2 linked regions of the Homo sapiens genome follow. The protein of the gene in region 1 purifies or fractionates together with the protein of each later gene. This does not show direct contact. Each region holds a gene or a part of one and is shown on either strand. Other genes may lie near its edges.

The links.
Region 2: the proteins of LRRIQ3 (region 1) and GNB4 purify together in Homo sapiens (affinity purification with mass spectrometry, with the first as the bait; one large-scale study listed by BioGRID). This does not show direct contact.

What each region holds. Positions count from the first base shown.
Region 1 is NC_000001.11:74,180,847-74,184,680, forward strand, and holds part of LRRIQ3 (leucine-rich repeat and IQ domain-containing protein 3), read right to left. Parts: intron 2,839-3,834; coding exon 2,590-2,838; intron 2,016-2,589; coding exon 1,692-2,015; intron 1-1,691.
Region 2 is NC_000003.12:179,416,794-179,420,627, reverse strand, and holds part of GNB4 (guanine nucleotide-binding protein subunit beta-4), read left to right. Parts: intron 1-1,122; coding exon 1,123-1,229; intron 1,230-3,834. UniProt on the Homo sapiens protein: Guanine nucleotide-binding proteins (G proteins) are involved as a modulator or transducer in various transmembrane signaling systems.

The sequences.
Region 1 (3,834 bases):
CCATCCACCCTAGCTAATGTAGCCCAAATCTCTACCCCTTTCAGTCTGTGTTAATGCCTTACTTTCTTTTCTTTAGCAACTAACACTAGCTGACATTTTATGGTTGTTTAGTTTTATTTTTGTTTCCAGATTTGTCTATTCTCTGTGCCTTTCCCTTGGACTTAATGAGGACAAGAATTTTGTCAGTATTATTTACCACTGAATCTCCAAGTCCCAGACAGTCCTTTTCATATATTAGGTACTCAGTATATACTTGGTGAAAGAATGAAGAAATAAAATGTATAAAGCGCCTACCACAATGGCATTCACTGAATATGTGTCTGTCCTCTACACTGTGTTCTTTCTTCTTTATTACTGGTATCTGCCTATATCAATCCTAATCACATCATTTTGAACCTACAGTAATTGATCCCCTTGCCCTCATTTGGCTTCTATCCTCCATTAATCTGCTAGCAAAATGTTGGGTTGATCACCTTTTAAAAACCTTGTCAATACCATTTATTCATAGAGCACTTACTATGAGGGACCTACCCTAATTTTCCTACTCAAATAATTTCAATTAATCTTCATTATATTCATCAAGTCTAAGCTCTTTAGTAGGTCATCCAAGTTCTTTCTCAATGCCCACTGCCCAACTTTCCATTACTTCCTTAAATGAATCTGTCACTTCGATTATCCTTAAAAGGGTCATGCCTGTTGCCACCTTTCATTATGCCATACTACGCAACTGAAGTACCTAAGTGAAATTCTTTATTTAGGGCCCAGGTTAAGATATCAGACTTAAATACTACCTTGTTTTTTATATTTTTAACTATTAGTACAAAATTATTACCAAAATCCTAAATTTTTAAAACTATTACAAAATCACTAATATGTCCCTAATTAAAAAAATTATATGCAGTAATAAAATTCTTCCAACTTTGTAATTTTCAGTTTTTCCACGCATAATCACTGTTCAATGTTTATATATTCTTTTAGATATACTCACTGTTCAAAATTATGTTCTATTCTTCCTCAAAATTTCTACACACATATATGTGACTTCACATATCTTTAGAACATATTACAAACATTTCCTGCAACTTATTGTTACTATATCTTGTACCTAATTTAACCCCCTCTTTTGAACTCTTAAATGATTTGTTCTAATATTTATTCATGTGTTATAAAGAACGTTTCCTTATGTTTTTGTAAATCCACTTAATTAGTCTGTATCCGTTAACTTGGTATCAACTTTTCACAATCACTTCTTCTAACATTTTATAAATCAATAGATAATGATGGTTTTATCTTGTCAAATAACCAAATCAATTGTGTAAGAATTAAATATTTTATCTTCTAATAATAATCTAAGTCATCCTTTAACGCTCTTAAAAAACATTAAGTATTTCTCAATGGAGTCTTTCATATACCAAATTCTGAATAAATTAGAGATTTACTTTCAATTTAAAAAACAAAAATTTGTTTCTCTACAATTTGATCATTTCAGGCTTTGTTTAATGTAGTTGGCATGCAAACTTTTATCAAGTTTCAGATAGAAAGACATTACAAATATATTCATTGGTTTATATTATTTTATATAAATGATGCAAAAATATTAAAAAGTTTATATAATTTAGATATAGAACTCAGAAGCTAAAATTTCCCTTTTATACATTTAATTAAAATGAAACCCTAAAGAAGCCAATTACCTTTCTCAAAGCTGGGCAGAAATTAAAGAAAAGTCGATGGTTACATGCTTTGAATCTTTCAGGAAGATGCCAGTTCTGAATTATTTCTTCATCAGAAATCACATGATGATCCAGCGCTTTGAGAGGCCATATACTGTTAACAAGAACATGTCTATATCCTTTTTTAAGGCTTACTGGACAATCAAACATAGTGAGGGCAATGAGGGTTGGACAGGCAGATAATACACATATATTCTTTAACTTTGCAAACCCATTGTCATGAAGATAGAGTAGTTTTAGGTTCTTCAATCCATTCCAAAATTTGGTATTTGGTAGACTCTTTATCTGAAATATTATTAAAAATCTTTTAAATTCCAAAATTACTTTTTTCGAATAGCACAGAAAATGGTAAAATATTACACATATAAAATTCAATATTCCCCAAATAGCAAGTTTCTAATTAATAAGCAAACAGAGTATTTATAATTATCCAATGATGGCCAGTTGAAAACCATAATACACTGGGTATCTGAGATAATTTATTATTATTCGCATAGTAAAATGCATAACCATACTTTTTTGTTCAAAGAAAATTTCTTTGTAATAGGTTGACTCTTTAAACTTTTCTAAAATACTTTCCTTACCTAAGGAAAATTAAGGAATCATGAGGCATTCTTAATCCAGGCTATAGATTTAAGAAGTGAAACATACCAGATTACACACTATTTATGTATTTTCATTTACATCAAAGTGTCCGTATTTATATACATCTTACATGCTTTTAATTTATTGTTAAATTTTTGTTTATATTTTAGACAAAAGACCATGTTGAAGAAATACTGTGGATAGGTAACATAAGTACTTATTATAAGACTGAAATTTCGTTTATATGCAAATATCTGAAATGGCTATTGCTTACCTGATTTCCATGGAGATCAAGTTTGATTAATTTTATACAACTTTGAAGTGGATGAATATCTGTAATAAAATTGTTTGAGAAGATGCATACTCTAAGAGAGATGCAAGACTGCAAATTTTCCATAGACTTTAAATGAAGGCCATTGAACTTCACAAAAACAAAATCTTTTTGACCTTCTCTTATGTTTTCATTATAGTGACTCCATTCTTCATGACTGGTTAGCTCTTCTGTGACTGTTCCATGAAACATCTAGGAAAGATAAGAAAGTGCTTTGATTTTTTTTTCCACTTTCAAAAATTTACCTGAAAACAAACAAAATTTTGCCAAGAGATAGCGCAAGTAAAAAGTGTTATTAAAGTTAAAATTTAAAAAAACTCATTCTTATAGAACTTTCTATCCCAAAATAACTTAAATATCTAACATTTCAATAACAGCCAATCAGAATGTTATCACTGCCCTCACCAGTGAACGAACTAATTAGCAAGAGGAAGACAAACTTCCATTTTCATAGAATATTTGAAAAATTCAGTGAAGAAACTGAGATAAAATCATCCCTTCTAGACAAGACAACTAACAACAAACAAATGAAACCATACTTTATATAACTCGTATGATAATTTTTGTTAAAATATACTGTTAAAGAAATACACTGAATAATAAACAAGTCAGGAGAGTGATAATCTTTGTTAAAGAGGCTAAACAATGCAGCCAGATAAAATAAAGGTGCTATACAGGCCTTCAAATGTTATCAACAATATTTGTGTCTTACAGAGAAAATTTGTTGTCAAAATATTTACATTCAATTCAATTAGGAAATTAGGCTCAGAATTCTAATAGCTTTAAATTTTGACTACTTAAATTTATCTAAAATATTTGGATAAATGGTTTTTAATATAATTTTACACAGTATTTCTCATATATGTGAATTTTCACTTATTAAGAGTAATTTCAGCTTTCATAAAAGGTAGTCAGTGATAGGTGAGAAGAGAATGTATGAGCTGAAGTGGTCTATTTGGAAGTATGTTTTAAGATCAACATTCCCCAATGGAAGAATCGATTTCTACGATGTGCAGATAAACTAAATCAGTGTGATTCAAATGAGAATAAATGTGAAAATCCAGATACACTCTTGTACTCTTTCAAGACACTGGTTACTTTATATATCACAACCAAGGCCTAAAACTAGAATCCTCCAGCTCTAAGTGTCAATGAATTAATTAGAAGGCAGATTCATGGGCCCCATCT
Region 2 (3,834 bases), on another chromosome or scaffold:
AAAAATAAAAAAAATTAGCTGGGCATAATCCCAGCTAGTCGGGAGGTTGAGGCAGGAGAATTACTTGAACCCAGGAGGCAGAGGTTGCAGTGAGCTGAGATCGCACCATTGTACTCCAGCCTGGGCGAGAAGAGTGAGACGCCGTCTCAAAAAAAAATATATATATATATATGTATATATATTTTCAAGGCCAAGCATGGTGGCTCATGTCTGTAATCCCAGTACTTTGGGAGGCCGAGGTGGGAGGATCACTTGAGGTCAAGAGTTTGAGGCCAGCCTGGCCAACATGGTGAAACCCTGTCTCTACTAGAAAAAAAAAAAAAACATGAAAGTTAGCTGGTCATGGTGGTGCCTGCCTGTAATCCCAGCTACTTGGTAGGCTGAGGCAGGATAATCGCTTGAACCTGGGAGGCAGATATTGCAATGAGCCGAGATCCCTACTGCATTCCAGCCCAGGAGACAAAGTGAGACTCTGTCTCGAAAAAAAAAAAATTATATATATTTATGTATGTATATATATATGTATGTATAGATTCATATAGTTTATGCTTCTTTTTAAATAGTTTCTGATTCTTTTTGGTATACCCTGATTAAGTGTTTTTTTCCTTATGAAAACTCTTAGGTTGGGAATGAGATAGTAAGAGGGGTCAAGAAGACTAATATTTTTAAAAAATCTTGGGAAGGCTTCATGTTTAATTAATATTGATCATTATTATTAAGGAAGTATTTTATGTGCTCTACAAATATAAAATTGGCTTTCTTACAGTTAAAATTGTAAATGTTTACTGTGATCATTTGCCTCTAGATTTTTATTTGTGGCTGGTTTTTTACTAAAGCATAGAGGTATATCTATTCTTTTTAGTTAATAGTCTGCAGAAGGCATTCTTATTATACATTTATGTATATTATTTATAACAGCACATAGGATTATTTTAAACTAATCATAATTTTCAGGAACATATTGATCCCATAACGGCTCTGTGGAATTATATACATTAAATTACCTTCAGTTACTATAAATGTACTTTATGTTTGCTTTTTTAACTCCTCACTGTTTCTAGTTCAAGTTATCTCATGAACTATGATTAAGGTAAAGAATAACATTTTTGTTGCTTTCAAAAGATTACATCAAATATGGACTCTGTGGGTCGAATACAAATGCGAACAAGACGTACACTGAGGGGCCACCTAGCTAAAATCTATGCTATGCATTGGGGATACGATTCCAGGTTTGTACCTGTCATTACCTGTCATTTTTAAACTGTTGCAGAATTATTTTCATTAAGAACCATCATTTGCATTTTCTTTGTTTAAAAACAGAATATATTCATGAAGCGTTTGCAGAAAATGCATCTCAGATGAACATGCTGCTTTCAATAAGAATATTAATTGACTCTTTAAAAGTATAAACATTTTTAATATGGAATCCAGGACAACTGTTCAGAAGAGGATTCCTTTTCTTTGCAGTGGAACATTGCAGACATTCTTTGTTTTTTAAATAGGCACAAAGCGTTTTTACTGTATATGAAGCTTGAAATTTCAGTTCATAAGCAAATACGTATTGAACACCTATGTGCAAGTTTTTGGATATTGCTATAGTTTGTTATTACATAAATTCGCAAATAATGGAAATTACATGAAACAAAGGTGTTTGTACTGAATACATCTTTTACTCCCTCGACTGCATCACAGAAAGGTGTGTGCTTGAATGTGCAAGCTGACCATCTGCAGGTGCACAGGCACACGCACAGCTGCTACGTGGCCTACAGTTAGATAGATTGCTCATCACTGTCATTCACTATGTGTATAAGGCTACAGCACAGCCTATGTTTTTCCATTGTCTGGCAATAGCAGATGTGTCTGCTATCACAGTGGTTTACTTGTTCCTTTGATTTGGTTAATCTTAATGGGAAATGCCTAAACCAAGAAACTTCTATGTTTTAATAGAAGTTGCACATTTATTCTCTTCTCCCAGGAGACACTAAAATTATAAAGTAGAAGAAGCCTCAATTGTTGCTCTAATTGGGATACTTGACCACAATAATATAGAACATGTGCCTCTTACGAAGGGATACATAAAATTATATAATTGGCAACTGACATAATGTCTTAATCTTTTTCTTTTTCTTTTCTTTTTTCTTTTTTTTTTTTTTTTTTGAGACAGAGTTTCACTCTTGTTGCCCAGGCTGGAGTACAATGGTGTGGTATCGGCTCACTGCAACCTCTGCCTCCCAGGTTCAAGGGATTTTCCTGCTTCAGCCTCCCAAGTAGCTGGGATTACAGACATCCACAACCACGCCTGACTAATTTTTGTATTTTTAGTAGAGAGGGGGTTTCACCATGTTAGCCAGCCTGGTCTTGAACTCCTGACCTCAGGTGATCCAACCGCCTCAGCCTCCCAAAGTGCTGGGATTAATCAGGTGTGAGCCACCGCGCCTGGCCGAATGTCTTATTCTTTTTCTTAAAGGAGTTGAAGATAAAAATAATTTACCTGTTGATAAAGCAAAATTTTAACTTAAAATATAGTAACTTGAAACAATGTTTATGGTTCTTGCTTTCCTTAAACGTTTTCTGAAGACTGTTAATCTTCATAGAAAAATGAAACCATCATCCAGGAACCTATCTCACATAGTCTTCCCACCCATCCGTGTTATCAATCCATTACTTAATGTTCTCCTCAACTCTTATGCTGATGATGCCAATTGATTTCTAAAGAATTTTCTTTAGATGCCATCCTATACCCCACTATCAGATAGATCTTCCCTTTTGTAAAACCTTGTAGTGATTGCTACCCAAGAATCTGATAATGTTATTTACCTCTAGGGAAAGGAACTGGGTGGCTGATGATAGGCCCAGGAAGGTGCTTTTTAAATTTTCTTCTGTATATCCTTTTTTATTTTTTGAATTTTACACCATGGTGAAAAGTAAAAATTCCAAACAAGGCTGGGCATGGTGGCTCATGCCTGTAATCCCAGAACTTTGGGAGGCCAAGCGAGTGGATCACTTGAGGTCAAGAGTTCAAGACCAGCCTGACCAACATGTTGAGATCCCATCTTACCAGTCGTGGTGGTGCACACCTGTTATGCCAGCTATTCGGGAGGCTGAGGCAGGAGAATCACTTGAACCTGAGAGGCGGAGGTTGCAGTGGGCTGAGATCGTGCCATTGCACTCTAACCTGGGTGTCACAGTGAGTGTCTGTCTCAAAAAAAAAAAAAAAATCCAAACAAAACAAAAAATTTAGTGGCTAAAATTACTTAGGAGTTCATACTCTTTAGTTTAACAAAGCTTTCTGCAGTTTAAGCCCAGTCTGCTTTTCTCAACTTATTTTTCCATTTTCTCACAAACTGTACTACTGGAAGACCCACAATTCCTGAAACAACACTCAGTGTATTTTTCTACCTGTCATTGATCTTACATAGCTTTCTCCTAAAATACAGCCTTTTCTGTATCTTTAGCTCTCAACATTTTCTTTCAAGACTCATTCTCTTGTGATTAACTCATCTAGCCATTGTTCCTCCTTTACTCTCCTGTGGCATTTATTTTATACCCCTCTTCTGACAGTTTTTACTTACTTGATTTAATATAAATATGAGTAAATGTCTTATCTTCACCAGATGGTAGAGGCCTCAAGAGCAGGCGATGTATCCTGCGTTGTACCTCTAGTATTGTCATATTCTCAGGCTCTCAATTGGTGTTTTTAGATTGGATGAAATATGGTTGTTAGGCTTCTATGTACATTCTTGTCATGAAATTTAAGTAAGTCAGTAAGTACTAAACCAGTCAGCTAATATCCACCCAAATCTTGTATAACTAAGATGTTGTTACCACAAAAAT